Regions from separate parts of the Homo sapiens genome. Here region 2 is linked to region 1. A link means that fine-mapping ties the variant in region 1 to the expression of a gene that starts in the linked region. Tissue or cell type: esophagus muscle. Region 1 holds a variant in brackets; the other region holds the start of a gene. All regions are shown on one strand. Distances are between the middles of the regions.

Region 1 (8,180 bases):
GATCTGGGTAGGCATCAAGGAAGAATAAGCCACATGTGGCTGACCAGATCACCTGGGAAACTCCGGAAACAGATTCCCAGGGGCCGTGCGCGATTCACTAAATGGGAATCTCCAGAGAAGGCTGGGCATCTGTGTTCTTAACACCCCTCGCTCACCCGCATGGTTCTGGCGGTCAACCAGCTTAGAACTCACTGACCTCAACTACGCCACATGAAGTCACCTTTAGCATTTTTATATAATGCAAGCTTCCTCACTGTCACATTATACCACAACCTTCTTCCACCCACCACATTTAGCACGATATATCTATAATACTGAAGTTTAATACTGGTCAGAAGTTCAGAAGAAATAACTCATATGTCCCTTTTTTTTTTTTTTTTTTTGAGACAGTCTCACTCTGTCACCCAAGCTGGAGTACAGTGGTGTGATCACGGCTCACTGCAGCCTCAACCTCCTGGGCTCAAGTGATCCTCCCACTTCAGCCTCCCAAGTAGCTGGGACCACAGGCACATGCCATCACACCCGGCTAAGTTTTTTTTTATTTTTTTGTAGAGAGGGGTCTTCCTATGTTGCCCAGATTGGTCTCAAACTCTTGGGCTCAAGGGATCCTCCCACCTTGGCCTCCCAAAGTGCTAGGATTATAGGTGTGAGCCACCGAGCCCAGCTACCAAATGCAGCAATTTTGTCTTATTATTTAAAACACTGTGTGTTTAGGTACTCTATGAAAAAAAATAATGTAGGAAATGCTTTCCAATTCAAACTATGCAATTAAGAAGTAGTGAAAAAAGGCCAGGCACAGTGGCTCACACCTGTAATCCTAGCACTTTGGGAGTCTGAGGTGTTGGATCACCTGAGCTCAGGAGATCAAGACCACCCTGGGCAACATGGTAAAACCCCATCTTTATACTAAAATACAAAAAATTAGCTGGGCATGGTGGCACGTGCCTGCAGTCCCAGCTACTCAGGAGGCTGAGGCACAAGAATCGCGTGAGCCCTGGCGCCACTGCACTCCAACCTGGGCAACAGAGTGAGACTTTATCTCAAAAATAAATAAATAAATAAATAAACAAACAGAAGTAGTAAAAAAAAAAAAAATCTAGGCTCAATCCAGGAAAGTAAAAAACTTAAGCTAAAAAGGGAAAGATTCCTTAGGAACAGATGATGGGAGAAAAAAAAAATCTCAAACCAAAATAAAATGAAACACTAGAAGAATCCTTATTGAAGCCAGAATTAAGCCAAGGAGATCTACTATCATTATTCTGATTTTACACTGTTTAGGAAGAATTAGATATTACAAATCAAAAAGAACAGAGTAAAGGAAAAGGATTTTGGGAAGAAGGAGGAGATTAAAATTTAATTCTTTTTTTTTTTTTTTTGGACGGAGTCTTGCTCTGTCACCCAGGCTGGAGTGCAGTGGCACAATCTCGGCTCACTGCAACCTCCACCTCCCATGTTTGAGCGATTCTTCTGCCTCAGCCTCCTGAGTAGCTGGGACTACAGGCGTGTACCACCACGCCCTGCTAATTTTTGTATTTTTAGTAAAAACGGGGTTTCACCATGTTGGCCAGGCTAGTCTGGAACTCCTGGCCTCAGGCGATCCACCTCGGCCTCCCAAAGTGCTAGGATTGCAGGCATGAGCCACCGCGCATGGCAAATTTCATTCTTTATAGATGATAACTGTATACCTTGAATAACTAAGGAAATTAAGTGAAAAACTAAAGCAATAAGGGAATTAAAAAAGATGACCAGTTACTAAATGAATAGACAGAAATCAACAACTACCCTGTCTAACAATAAGAACATATAATGGATGAAAACATCCCACTCAGAATGGCAACAGCAATAGAATGTTACCCTTAAGAATACACTACATAACTACATGAATAAGCTATTACTCCTACCCTTAAAAATAATATTGCTCTTTAAATAAACTCTCTATGTACAAGCAGACAAATAGAGACATGCCTTAATCTTACACAGGAAGAGTCCATTTTGTTTTTTTTGTTTTTTGTTTTCTGGTCAATTGGTTCAGGATGAGGAAGAGTCAATATTTTTAAAAGAAATATTGAATATCACTAAATCTACCTACAAATTTAATGCAAAGCCATTCAAAACTGGTGCCAATACTGAAGGTGGTGGTAAATTATACACAGGTGATAGTAAAGGGTTAAAGAGCCATTATAAAGTGTCACATTAGCTATCAAAAATTTTAATGCACATACCCTATTAGCCAAATAGTGCCTTTCTAGGAACCTACCCCACATAAGTATTTGTACATGTATGCAAAGATATACACACACAAAAATGTTCGGTGAAGCACTATAATAGCAAAACCACCACCAGAACCTGGAAACACTCAAAATAGAGGATATATTAAATAAATTATATTACATCCATTCAATAAAATTCTATACAACCATCAAAAATGAAGATGTATACTTACTGCCATAAACGGATATATAATATAGCTTGAAAGTGCTTGAAAACAGTATATATTTATAATGTGAGGCCAGCTTAATAGGGACACAATGCTAGGTTCAAATCCCAGCACCAGCTATGTGATTTCAGGCAAGTAAATTAATCCCTTCATTCCTTGGTTTCTTCATCTCTAAAACGTGGGTAATAATCCCTACCTCAGTGTTAAATGTTGCCATTTTTGGATAATATTTCCTAATTCAAAAGAAGTAGGATTTCATGGTGCAGTGATTTATTTACTTATTACTGAATATTATTTTTTGTATACTAGTGATCTCTATTTCTCTCATGAATTGTCCTTGGATAACTTTTCTACTGGAGTTTTAGTGCTTCTTATCAATTTGTGTGAATGCTTATACACTGAGGATATTTGTGCTTGCTCATTACATTGCTAATTTTTCCCAGCTTGTTGTTTACCTTGTTATACATTTTCTGCAATATAAGTATTTAAACAGTCTAGGTGATCAAATCTACCAATTATTTTCCTGAATAATTTCCTTTATTATGTTTCTACTTTGAAAGTCCCTCTATATGCTAAAATGTCATATCATTTCTCTTCCACTTTTATATATATATATTTTATCCCAAATGGGAAGAACTACACTAATCCAATTTTCCCAAACATATGTATATAAGCATTCAAGACCATCAACTTTGCATTAAAAGCCCTTGGTTTTTTTAACACTACCTTCCCAAAGCTAGCATGATGGAGGTAGGCACTACTCTCAAAAATACATAAACTATACTTACAGATTGCCAGCCATGTTCTCAAACTCACACCACCTTCCATGAGTCCCTTAACTTGTCTGAGACCTTTTCTCATACAGAAATCAGGAAAGACAGAAGAGGAAGCTATGGAAGCAGACCCAATCAATAGCTGCATAAAGCACTACCAATAGTTACATGTCTGCCTTTTAAGCAAAGAATATGTTATAGCTCAAAATTCAAAGCAATATAAAAAGGTATCCTTTAAGAAGTCTTACACTACCCCATTTCTGCCTTCTATCCACCTTCTATTCCTGTGTATCTTTCCGATGCTTCTCTCTGTACATACAATATATTATTATTTGCCCCAAATATTTTTTTTTTTTTTTTGAGATGGAGTTCCGCTCTTGTTGCCCAGGCTGGAGTGCAATGGCGCGATCTTGGCTCACTGAAACCTCCGCCTCCTGGGTTCAAGCGATTCTCCTGCCTCAGCCTCCCGAGTAGCTGGGATTACAGGCATGCGCCACTACGCCCAGCTAATTTTGTATTTCTAGTAGAGACAGGGTTTCTCCATGTTGGTCAGGCTGGTCTCAAACTCCCAACCTTAGGTGATCTGCCCGCCTCGGCCTCCCAAAGTGCTGGGATTACAGGCTGAGCTATCACACCCAGCCTGCCCCAAACATTTTAAACAGTTCTTGCACGAAGACTCTTTCACTTTACTTGTTAAATGCTCCTATCTTTTGACAGCAGTAATATGTAGACTTTTCAGTTCTGCAAAGTCAGGAAAATTAACCTATTGTTGACTCAACATATTTATATATAATTGAAACTCCTCTTCCAACCATGTGTCTTAAGCAGAAGGTAATGAACCTAAGGTCAATTAATTTATGTTTGAAAGTAGAAATGTTACATCTTAAAACAGTGTTTTACATCTTTTTTTTTTTTTTTTTTTGAGACAGGGTCTCACTCTGTCACCCAGGCTGGAGTGCAGTGGTGCAATCATAGCTCATTGCAGCATTGACCTCCTGGCCTCAAGCAATCATCTGCCTCAACTTCCTGAGTGGCCGAGACTATAGGTGCACGACACCATGCCTGGCTAGTGTTCTCAAACTGTGTCCTGTGAGAAGTTCTTTTGATTGAGACCCCTGGTGAGGTCCAGTCTCAAACCCCAAACTTCAATCAGAATAGCTCTACTCCCTCTTAAGATTTTTCACAGTTTAAACATGGTTTTGATAAAAGTAAAATTGTTCCCAGACGCTAACAATAGTTTTAAAGCAACGCACAATCTCCATATTGTGCAATGTAAATTACATGACCAATTTTTTTAATGTTCCTTGGCTTGCTGCATAGAAAAGCATAGTCTCTATAGAACGAAGAATTCAATATATAAAGTTCAAACTTAAATATTTTATCCAGATCCAGTATCTTTGCCCGTCCTTAAATTTTCTATTTCTCCTTCTGAGTACTTTTTTTTTCTCTATGTTACTTCGTATATATAAGATCATAAAGCACACTGCCCTTTTGTGAATTCTGAACATTGTTGTAAGGTAAACTCTGACTTCCAGTTAAAGTGTTTTAAAAGTGTTTTAACTGTTTAAATGATGGACTAAACATATTATCTAATTTCACTCTTTCCCAAAGCCCCACTAAAACCAAAGCAAAAAAAATTTTTAAGCAATTATTTTAAAAATTAAAAAAAAAATTTAGGCCAGGCGCAGTGGCTCACACCTGTAATCCCAACACTTCGGGAGGCCGAGGCAGGCGGATCACCTGAGGTCGGGAGTTCGAGACCAGGCTGGCCAACAGGGAGAAACCCCATCTCTACTAAAAATACAAAACTAGTCAGGTGCGGTGGCGCATGCCTGTAATCCCAGCTACTCGGGAGGCTGAGACAGGAGAAT[T/C]GCTTGAACCCAGGAGGCGGAGGTTGCAGTGAGTTGAGATCACGCCATTGCACTCCAGCCTGGGCAACAAGAGCAAAACTCCATCTCAAAAAACAACAACAACAAAAAATTTAAAGCAATATTAAACCATGAGGATGTGGAGAAAAGAAAAGGTGACAACAGCAAGATTTTGGCCCTGAAAAGCTGAGGACCCATCGTGCCTGACTTTAGAGATATAAGAAAGACAGCAGGGGCAAGAGCTGAGAACGAGCCCAACACACTCCCTAGATCCTTAAAGGCTCTGGAACTTGTTGGTGCCCATGTACCTGTGGGACTGGAATAGGAGGGCTGAGGAGCAAGTGCGGACAGCCCAAAATACTCAGGCCATGGTGAGACCCTCTGCCGCCCCACACTGCTGGGCACTTGCTCCTCCCTGGCTTCAGCCTTCTCTACAAGTTTTCCGGAATGTGTAAAGCAAAGGTTCTCTGCACCCACAGTTAACTGGCAGGGTCGGAGTACAATGATAAAATCAAACATTTTTAAATAAACCAAAAAAATAATAATTAAACCCTTGTTTCATTTAATTTTTTTTGTTTTGCAATCAAATAATACTCACGCTTTCTTTTACTGTGCATTTGTTTGGCTTATTTTTGAACCATCCTTTTGCTTTTTTTTTTTGAGACAGAGTCACTCTGTTGCCCAGGCTGGAGTGCAGTATCATGATCTCCACTCCCTGCAACTGCCACCTCCCGGGTTCAAGCGATTCTCCTGCCTCAGCCTCCTGAGTAGCTGGTATTACAGGCATCCACCACCATGCCCAGCTAATTTTTGTATTTTTAGTAGAGACGGGGTTTCACCATGTTGGCCAGGCTGGTCTCGAACTCTGACCTCAAGTGATCCACCCACCTCGGCCTCTCAAAGTGCTGGGATTACAGGCGTGAGCCACCGCGTCTGGCCCCTTTTACTTTCTTTTTTGAATTTTTTTCCAACCTTTTACTTTCTGAATGAATGACTTATATGTAACTACCATAGTTTTTGTTTAGTACAGAAAGTGAATTTAGTTGAGTCCATGCCAGGTGAGGTCATCTCAGGTGCAACAGTCTTACTCGTTTTAACTTTTGTACTATTCCTTGTTGTTGCCTGTTTCCTTTTACTCTGTAATCTATTTTATTTGGTTGCTTTTCTTCCTCTCAATTTTACTTTTACTTTTACATTTCAAAGGTATACAAAGTCTGTTTTTAGCATAATAGCCTTCTCAATTTATCAATTTCAAAAAAATGAAACAGTATTCCTTAACCACATATTCTGAAAGATACGACAATTAGCACAGTGGTATCTCCCACTCCCCAGCCCAAACCTAACCTAATCCCCCATGATATTGTTGACTTCCAGGAAATTTTGCTATGGCATGTTATCATTGTGTTGACATTTTTAAGGTTGAGTCGGTATTTATTCAATTGTTTTTGCCTTCTGGCTTATTTCTCCAAGAAAGATTATTCAATTATTGAAGCTGGTATCTTTATACTTCAACCTCTCTATTTCTGGAGCCCTCACTGATTCATCTTTCAGTTGGCTGGGTTATATCTGCAAGTAGATTTTTCAGTGAGGTTTATGAATGCCATTAATTCCTGAGCTTTTGCCCATTTGCAAATGTCTTATTATGCTGCATTTTAATGACATTTCAATCCAATCACATTGTCTTCCTTCTTGCCCTAACTCCCCTACTCTTGTTTTTTCCTTTTGAGCCAGAGTCTCGCTTTGTCACCCAGGCTGGAGTGCAGTGGCGCAGTCACAACTCACGGTAACCTCGAACTCTTAGATTCACACTATCCTCCCACCTCTGCCTCCCAGGTTACTGACACCACAGGCACGCATCACCACACCTGGCTTTTTCTTTTAGGGGGCAGGGGGACAGAGACAGGGTCTTGCTATGTTCCCCAGGCTGGTCTCCAACTCCTGGGCTCAAGCAATCCTCCTGCCTTGGCCTCCCAAAGTGCTGGGATTACAGGCATTAGCCACTGTGCCCAGTCCCCCTACATTCTTAAGCATTGCTTCATCATCTTTTGGCACATTACACTGTTGAAAACCCCAAGACTAAGGTGATTTTATTTTTTCCATTATAGGTGGCCTGTTGGCTTTTTTCCTGCTTAAATATGTGTAGTATTCTTTTATCTTTTAGGGGTTTGTTTTGTTTTGTTTTTGAGATGGAGTTTCACTCTCGTTGCCCAGGCTGAAGTGCAATGTCATGATCTTGGCTCACCTCAACCTCTGCCTCCCAGGTTCAAGCGATTCTCCTGCCTCAGCTTCCCAAGTAGCTGGATTTACAGGCATGCACCACCACACCTGGCTAATTTTGTATTTTTAGTAGAGATGGGGTTTCTCCATGTTGGTCAGCTGGTCTGACCCCAGGTGATCTGCCCACCTCGGCTTCCCAAAGTGCTGGGATTACAGGCGTGAGCCACCGTGCCCGGCCTATCTTTCAGGTTTTATAAATTAACCAGGATACGCTTCCATTTTAATGACTCTGAATTTTTTCCAGTTCACAGTGAGTCCTTATATTAATATTATATGATCTTTCATTATATTCCAGGAAAACTTTGTCTTTTATTTATTAATGTTACATCTGTTCCACACACTCTGTTCTCTTCAGCAGGAACACCAGCTCTGACTACAGTAGATGCCTTCTGGACTCTTCTCCCACAGCTTCCATCTTCTTTCTAATCACCATGACCTCTTTGTTCTTTCCTACCGTGGTCTACGTAATTTCAGGAAGTTGATCCTCACATCAGTGATTTCAGAACCACTGGTACTACCTCATGTAACCTCCAACATGCTTTTAATTCCTGAAATGATTTTAGTTTTCTATTTCTTTCCTTATGGATGTCAGCTGACCTCCATCTCCTCCTTTTAGCTTTCTTTAATCTTTTAAAATTACTTCTTTGTTCTTTTGTTTTATTGAGCTCGTGTTGTCTAAATTTAAGAGCAAAGTGGCTTTATCTAAAATTCCATTCTAGCTGGGCACAGTGGCTCACACTAGTAATCCCAGCACTTTGGGAGGCTGAGGCAGGCAGATCACCTGAAGTCAAGAGTTCAAGACCAGCCTGGCCAACATGGTGAAAC
Region 2 (8,151 bases), 43 kb before region 1:
AAGAGGTTTACACTGTGGCTGTGTTTCTCACAGGTTACCCAAACTCCTATCATAAAGGCAGGAAACAGAAGTAAAAAACCTGAATCCAAACCACAGGAAGTGCTGCGGAGATACTGATTCGTGGGTTGATCAGAGCCCAGGAGGCACTAAAGGCTCAATGAACATGGTGATCTTTGTGCAAGAGATGTTCCATCAAGGCTTACCTGGCTGGGTGGTAGCTTTTTGGCCTCTGTTGGGGGCTGGGAATCCTTCACCCAAAGCTCATGTTCCCTTTCAAGTCTACAAGTGATCTCTGGTTTGGCAGCAGCATGCACTGTAGGGAGAAAGACAGCCCAGTGCCCCTCAACCCACACTGAGCGCACATAGACCCGTGTCAGTCCTGAAGCCTGACTTGCACCACCCATTTAATGCCCTGGGCTCACCCTATCAATTTGGGACAGCGGGGGTAGGTTGTAAACCTAAGAGAGCTCCAGAAGTAGGCAGGGCCTGGCATACAGGTAGGGATGTTTATTTCAGGGCAACTTCAGGAGTGCCAAGGGCTGATAAAACAGTGCAATTGTCATAATATGTTTTCCCACTGCCAGGGCCCTTGAAGGAGAAACAGGCTCAACTAGTCACAGAGACAACCATGCTCTGGGTCTAGTTCTCCCTGACCCCACAGGCCAGGAGTGCCCCTATTAGATGGCAAGCAAGCAAGGGGCCAAGGTCCTCACCCAGCAAGACTCCCAGCTCCTAATTCCTTCTTATCACATCCTGGTATAATTCCTTCTACTCATGGCCACCAGAACAATGGGTGGAAGGTAGGTGGTTACATCATTAAATGTCACAGGCCTTATTTGCAAAGACAGAGACATCTGGAGCTGTTGTTCTCACCTCCGACACGTGCCCCGTCTGCAGAGAGCATTAGGATGCATCTGTGGCTCTGAGGTGTGATTTCCTAGGGCCTTCAAGTGTCCTGGGGCTCCTGTTCATTTGCACTGGGGGACACTCAGGGAAGTTTTAAAGAGCCTCTTTCAGTGGCTCCTTCTCCTTCTACCCTTTCTAGGAATTCATCAGCCCCATGAAAAGATGAACGATAGAGATGTCACCAACATCAGGACCCCACTCCCTGGGAGATGTCATGGAAACTTGTCAATCACACCCAAAGCACTCACTGAGGAGCCATGGCAGAGCAGTCGGTGGCGCCAATACCAACCAGAAGCCGCCAGGGCAGAGGGGAACCGTGAAGCCAGTGGAATGCACAGCTCCACCTCAGGGGACCGGGGTAGGCGGGGCTGTGTCTGGTAACATGCCCTTTGCCTCACATTAGTGCCTCTGAAAATAGTGTCCTCAGCCTGGGCACAAACCCTAGGGGTGAGCTGGGAGTGTGGAGGAGACGCTGGATTAGGGAGAAGTCTCGGCCATGTGTTCTGGCTCTTTTACTGATGAGCTGTGTGGGCCTAGGCAAGTTACTTCACTTCTCTGGGCCTCAGTTTTATCACCTGTAAAGTGATAGGATTGCCTTAGCCTCTAAGATCCCTTTCAGCTAAAAACAAAGTTCTAGAAAATAAATATGTGGTACTGTGGAACTCTGGGGAGCTGTTTGATCAGGTGAACAGTTTACCCATGGAAATGGGGCTCCAGCACAAAGCTGCTCACATCTTCCAGTCACGCTCCAGGGAACAGCCAGGGCTTGTGGGCCCAGATGAGGCTTTAGTGGTTGGAGAAGGAGCCAGTTCCTGGTTTTAATCCCTTCATGGACCTCAGACCATCACAAAGCTGCCAAACAAATGACACAGGCAATCACATGCAAATTAGGACAGAAATGAAACATCAAAGACATTAAAGGAAAAGAGTAAGAGCTGCAGGCTGCTAATATGAGTGGCTGCTCAGACTCAGCAATGTTTTTGGTTCTGGCCAAAGCCAAGACAAAGGAGCAGAGGCAAAGAAGGAAATACATTTCACTTTACAGCTGTCATTTTCTACAGAGGATTTTTTTTTTTCCAGAACAAAATTCAAAAAGTCCGTCTTTTTTGAGCTATAGAACTTTCGTGGTGATTTTTTTTTTTTTTTTTTTTTTGAGACGGAGTCTCACTCTGTCCCCCAGGCTGGAGTGCAGGGGCACAATCTCGGCTCACTGCAAGTGCAAGCTCTGCCTCCCGGGTTCACGCCATTCTCCTTTCAGCCTCCAAAGTAGCTAGGACTACAGGTGCCCGCCACCATGCCCAGCTAATTTTTTTATATTTTTAGTAGAGACGGGGTTTCACCGTGTTAGCCAGGATGGTCTCGATCTCCTGACCTCGTGATCCGCCCGCCTCTGCCTCCCATAGTGCTGGGATTACAGGTGTGAGCCACTGCGCTCAGCCCTCGTGGTGATTTTTTGAAGGCCTGTATGGACATACTCTTAACTCTATCTCCTGGATGCCAAGTGCACCCTTATCCTAGGCCAGTGTTCTCAACAATGTACACACTCTGGATGAGAAAAATAACCATTGTTTACAATCCAGCTAAAATCTCACCTCCTCCAGGGAGTCTTCCTGGATTTCTCCACCCTCTGAATTCTCATAATGGGCATTTGGCTACTTTGATCACAGGGCTCTTAGAACTGCGCTGTCCAGCATTATGATTTTACCAGAATATATCACTCCTCAACTACTTTAGAAACCCCTCGAAGGCTAGGATGGTATTTTATACCTAACAGTTTGGTGTCATCCCACGCCCACCTCCAACTTACATGAATGTTGGAAGGATGGATAGGGAGGTTTCAACTAGAGAACGGAGAAGGGCGGATGTAACTGGTTCTTGATTTCAGAAAACAGCCAGGAGCACACATGGCTGACGGGGTCAGTGCAAGGACAGGCACATTTCCCTTCTGCATCACGTGGGGACTGCGCCTCCCTATGTCATGAAGCCAGGGAATATGTGTGGCCGGCCGCTTGGGGTAGCACTTGTTGCTAGAGATACCGCCTGGAGGCCACTGATCTGTAAAAGGGATCTCTACAGAAGATAGGGATTTTTGATCGCCAGAGAAGAAGGGATATGTGAGATCCAAACGCCGAAGGAGGAAAGCAGGCTCCGTGGTCTCTTCCAGCCCTGATGGAAGAAACTACCGAGCCTTATTATACTAGGTGCTTTCCACATGCCTATTCATTTAATCCTCCAGCAACCTTGTAAGAAGGGCCATCCCATTTTATATTTAAACAAACCTTAACTACTGACGCAAGGAGTCAAGGATCTAATCCCAAAGCCTCTGCCTGGTTCGCTGCAGATGGATGTCCGCGAGGACGCCAGCCCTCCGCCTCCCGCCGGGTCCCTGAACGCCGGCCCGGCCGGTCCAACCTCATTCCGCTTCCCGCCATCGAAACGCGAAGCCCCCGCCTTCCCCCAAACGTCTCAGCGCCGCTGGGGCCTTTCTGGCTGCGCCGCCTCCGACCCCAGGCCCCGGTCCGCGCCCGCCGCTCGCTAGTCCTGGGAGTGAGGAGAACGCGTGCTGAGGACCCGGCCAGAGGGACAGCGGGGACCGCCCTCCCGCTGCGTCTCTGAAAGCGAGGCCGTTCCTCCCGCGTCCGACCCCCGCGGGGCCGTCAGGTTCGGGGCGGCCCAGGCTGCGGGTCCGCAGGGCGCTTCGGGCCGAGCCGGCGCGGCGCGTGAAGGGCAGGGGACGCCCCGAAAGACCGCTGGGGTGGGACCCCAAGCTCCAGGGGTCTTTGGAAATAAGAATGCGGCGTGACGTTGGCTGTGCGGGCGCGGGGCTGACGCGGACCCTATAACCCATCGCCGAAACCGGGCGGCCGCGCCCCTATTCCTCGGCATTTCTCTCTGTCCGCGGCCCTGCTCAGCCAATCAGCGAGTGGGCTCCTAGGCAGGTCCTGAGTGACAGCGCGGCGGGCTGGATCAGGAGATGCGCGTGCGCGGCCCGGCCCGGCTGATCGCTTCGGGTGCTCGACTCCTGTTGCGCATGCTCAGCGCGCTGCCCGGCTGGGGACCCGCGCACCTGCAGCGCCCGCTGCTCGGCCCTGCATCCTGCCTGGGCATCCTGCGCCCGGCCATGACGGCGCACTCATTCGCCCTCCCGGTCATCATCTTCACCACGTTCTGGGGCCTCGTCGGCATCGCCGGGCCCTGGTTCGTGCCGAAGGGACCCAACCGCGGGTAAGGAAAGCGCGCAGGCCCTGCAGACCTCTCCACCCCGGCCCCCTGGCCCGGCTCGCCCCTCCGCCCCGGGGCGGCGGCTTCCTGCTCTGCAGCGAGCGTCCGCAGGAGGGACGCCAGGACCCCGGACGCCACCTCTGAGGTCTCTCTGCACCTGGGTCTCTGACAGCCGGGAACAGGCAGGAGGTGGGGCGAGAGGGCATATCCAGAAGGTAAAGAGGAGAGTGACATTGGAGATGTCTGTCACCCCTCCTGCAGCCAGTAAAGGGCACAAGTGGGCACTGACGCAGTTTCTCCACTCCTTGCTAGCTGTGTGACCTAGAGCCAATATCAAGTCTCAGTTTCTTCATGGGTAAAATGGAGATAATGTCGACTCCTGCCTTAAAAGGCTGCTGTGAGGATGACCTGCGGTAACGCATTTAAAACACCTACCAGTGCGTGACACTTTGTAGGTATGGGATAAGTTTAGCTGGCGTTATTTTTCGAAGGTCCTCTAGCAGATTGCTGCGCCATTCACCAGTTTCTGCTTCATATTATCTTCAGTTACAAAGCACCCTTCCCTTGACTGCATGTTCCCAGGGGCTGGAGTTTGTCCAGTTCACCATTGTCTACTCAGTGCCCAGCCAGGACTGGCACAACCTGCTTAGTAATGTTGAAAAAGGGATCGCGTGCTCCTGTGTCCAGCACCAGCTTGCAGTGCTTTAGATCAAAGATCAAGGGCCTCGTTTGGATTAGAGTTAGCTTTGCCCAAAGGCCGTTTGGACATGTGAGTGCTGCCTTTGTTCTTAAAGACAGGCAGGGTTTGGGATCCCACAGCTTCACTTTGTAAACCATTTTCGTGTCTTGCGTCTCCTGCTATTCTTGGTGAGTTCTTGCTTCAGTTTGACTGAAATTTCTTTTGCTGCACTTGAAGCATCTGTCTCTGGTCTTCTCTGAGTACACGCAAAGTGGCTAGTCCCTGTTCTCTTTGTAACAACTCACTGGGCCTCAGAACTGGCTCACAGTCTGCCTGCTTCTTGCCCTGTCTTCTAGCCTATTGTTTTCCTTCCCCTTGCTCCATGAATTTTGAATTCTACAGACCACTCCCTGTTGGGTTGCCACAAATGCAGCTCTGTGCAGTGCCTTTCCACAACACGTCTGCATTAAGATGGAGCAATATTGGGTGGTAGAGAAGGGAAATGAAGGGAAGGATTCTTAAGGCAACTTGGATGTGGTCAAGGTTGGCCTCTCTGTGAGGTGACACTTTCAGTTTTTATTTTCTGCCTTGCTATTCTTACCCTGAGTAGAACTCAGCCTCCTGTGTCCAGGAGGCATCAGGAAGGCCAATGGAAAAGAGCTCACACCAGGAGCTCTTCTTGCTCTGGTCCTGGCCAGGCCTTGTGAGGTGCTGGCTGCATTTGTTCTGACCCGTGTCCTCTTCTGCTGCAGAGTGATCATCACCATGCTGGTCGCCACCGCCGTCTGCTGTTACCTCTTGTAAGTACTACTCTCCCCAGCTCAAAGTCAGCCAGTTCCTTTGTCCTCCCTCCTTTCCTCCTCACCCTAGCCTGCTCTTCCTTCTGTCCTGGTAGTAAATGCCTCTTGAAAGGCTGAACCTATAAAACAACAGGAGTGGAGGTGGTGTGGAATGGGAAAGAGAGCAGTGGGCCAGAAGTCATGAACCCTGGGCTCTGGATCTGGCTCTGCCCCCAGAGTTCTGGCCCCCATGGGCTGTAGTTTTCTCACCTGGGCAAGGAAGGAGGCAGGCCACCTCAGTGCTGTCTGTGCCTGACTGGGTCACCTGGAGTGATTGTTCAAACACAGTTTTCAGGCTGCACCCTACACCCATGAAATTACAACTCTCGAGATCTGCACTTGGGAATTCCTGTTGTTCATGAATGCCCCCAGGTGACTGGAATGCAGCCATCTTAGAACCACTAGGTGAGAGGCCAGACGTGGCGGCTCACGCCTGTAATCCCAGCACTTTGGGAGGCTGAGGTGGGTGGATCACGAGGTCAGGAGTTCGAGACCAGTCTGGCCAACATAGTGAAACTCCGTCTCTACTAAAAATACAAAAATTAGCCAGGCCTGGTGGCGCGTGCCTGTAGTCCCAGCTACTCAGGAGGCTGAGGCAGGAGAATCGCTTGAACCCGGGAGACGGAGGTTGCGGTGAGCCAAGATCTTACCACTGCACTCCAGCCTGGGCAACAGAGTGAGACTCCGACTCTAAAAAAAGAACCACTAGGTGAGAGTAAGTCATCAAACTTGGAATAGGTACCCTGGGGATATAGAAGAACATTCCAAGGGACTTGAATACCTGGAGAGTGTGAGGAAATCAGTTTGCAGATCCTCAGTGTCTATTGTTTAGTCTCTTGCTAAAACTGCCATTCACAATAGCCAATCCCTCTTTATTAAAAAAATTTTTTAAAAGGAAAAAGAAAAAGACCCTGCCCCCGCATCCATCCCAAACCTGCGGTTACATTGCTCCATGTTTAGATGATCCTGGCTGCCAACCAAGAGATAAGTTCAAGTTCTAGTTTGTTGGGAGGCCTGTCTCATGGTTAATCAAGCTGCATTAAGGCTGTTGGGTTTCCCATCTTCCTATGTCTTGTACATTATTTTTATGGGTTAAGCTTGGCATCGTTGGGTGTTCTTAATTCAGAATAATCAAAACAGGACAGGTAAAGTGATGAGATGCTCATTCTTTAAGAGGTAACAGATTCTTTTGAAACAACTGGAATATTTTCCAGGGTTGCCAAATTTTTCAAAATACATAGGACAAAACCCACTTTCAAAAAATTTACTTCATTGATTTAAGATTTGATGTTATCATAGTTAAAATTGTTTTATCTGATTAGGTCATGGATTCTTTATTCCTATTAACCAATTCTCTTAATTTACCTTATGTTTTATTGATTGATTGATTGAAATGGGGTCTTGAGACCAGGCCAGTATGGTCTCAAACTCCTGGGCTCAAATGATCCTTCTGCCTCAGCCTCCCCAAGGAGCTGGGATGACAGGTGCACACCATTGCACCCGGCTGTTAACTAATTAGATAATTGACAGGGTCTTACTCTGTTGCCCAGGCTAGAGTGCAGTGGTGGGATCATAGCTCACTGCAGCCTCAACCTTCTGGGCTCAAGCCATCCTCCCACCTCAGCCTAGCTTTGACCACAGGCATGTGCCACCATGCCTGGCTGATTTTTAAATTTTCTGTAGGACAGGGTCTTGCCATGTTGCTAAGGCTGTGCTTGAACTCCTTGGCTTAAGTGATCCTTCCACCTCAGCCTCCTGAGTAGCTAGGATTACAGGTACACGCCACTGCACCCAGAAATGTATAAGCCCTCCTACTGACAAAAACTAAACTTGTTAGAAATAATGATGACTATTAACACATGGTTTAACTTAAACCCACTTTTTTTTTTTTTTTCAAAATTCTTCCTGGACAGAGCATTCTCTGAGGTCCTTTCTCTAATGCTATTTCTAGGTCCTTCAGGGCTTGAGAAAAGATCCTCATCTGCCCATGGCAGGGCCTCAGAGGGGCTTGTGTTTGGTGGCTGGGAGGGTGGGGGAGACGGGGCCTACACAAGATGCGGGGTAATCCCAAATACCAACTGAATCAACATACGGGAAACAGAAAACACACTGCAAATTGGATGCATACAGGTAGAAAGGTGGGGTCATTCTAAGAAAATGTTACGCCTAGAAATTATATTTACAAAACATAAACTCGGAGAGAATGCTGATGTAAAGGAGGTAACAATTTCTGATGGCTTCCTGGGCGTTAGGTCCTCCTACCTACTGTGAGGGATTCAAAGAGGGAAAATACCGATCCTTCCTGCAGAAACAGACAAAGCAGTGTGGATGTGGTCGTGGGGGGCCCTTCCAGGTCAGGCACTGACAGAGCGTGGGGACCTACTAACTACTGTGGCAAATGAAGTTGGGAGCTTTGTCATGAATGATGGGGCCAGACAGCCACCCACACGCCCAGCAGTGATGACAGGTGGGGCAGGTCCCTGAGGGTTTTCTGGCCTGAAGAAC

Evidence for each region. PIP is the estimated chance that this variant, and not a neighbour inherited with it, causes the effect.
Region 2: it holds the start of ATP6V0E2-AS1, and the variant in region 1 is fine-mapped to the expression of ATP6V0E2-AS1 in esophagus muscle (GTEx, PIP above 0.99).

Annotation. Positions count from the first base shown.
Region 1 is chr7:149,913,523-149,921,702 of GRCh38, forward strand. It overlaps a transcript of ACTR3C not described here. Among named protein-coding and RNA genes, the nearest start is that of ATP6V0E2, 44 kb to the left of the region's middle. The variant T/C (reference allele first, on the strand shown) is at 5,082.
Region 2 is chr7:149,870,039-149,878,189 of GRCh38, forward strand. ATP6V0E2-AS1 (ATP6V0E2 antisense RNA 1) reads right to left here and starts at 3,824. Exons shown (of 4, transcript NR_027040.1): 1 at 3,186-3,824; 2 at 1,604-1,758; 3 at 204-313. It overlaps ATP6V0E2 (ATPase H+ transporting V0 subunit e2), which reads left to right and starts at 3,931. Exons shown (of 4, transcript NM_145230.4): 1 at 3,931-4,131; 2 at 5,560-5,607. The coding sequence starts at 4,028. RefSeq lists silencers at 3,458-3,667, 3,698-3,777, 4,188-4,367 and enhancers at 3,730-4,698, 4,028-4,167.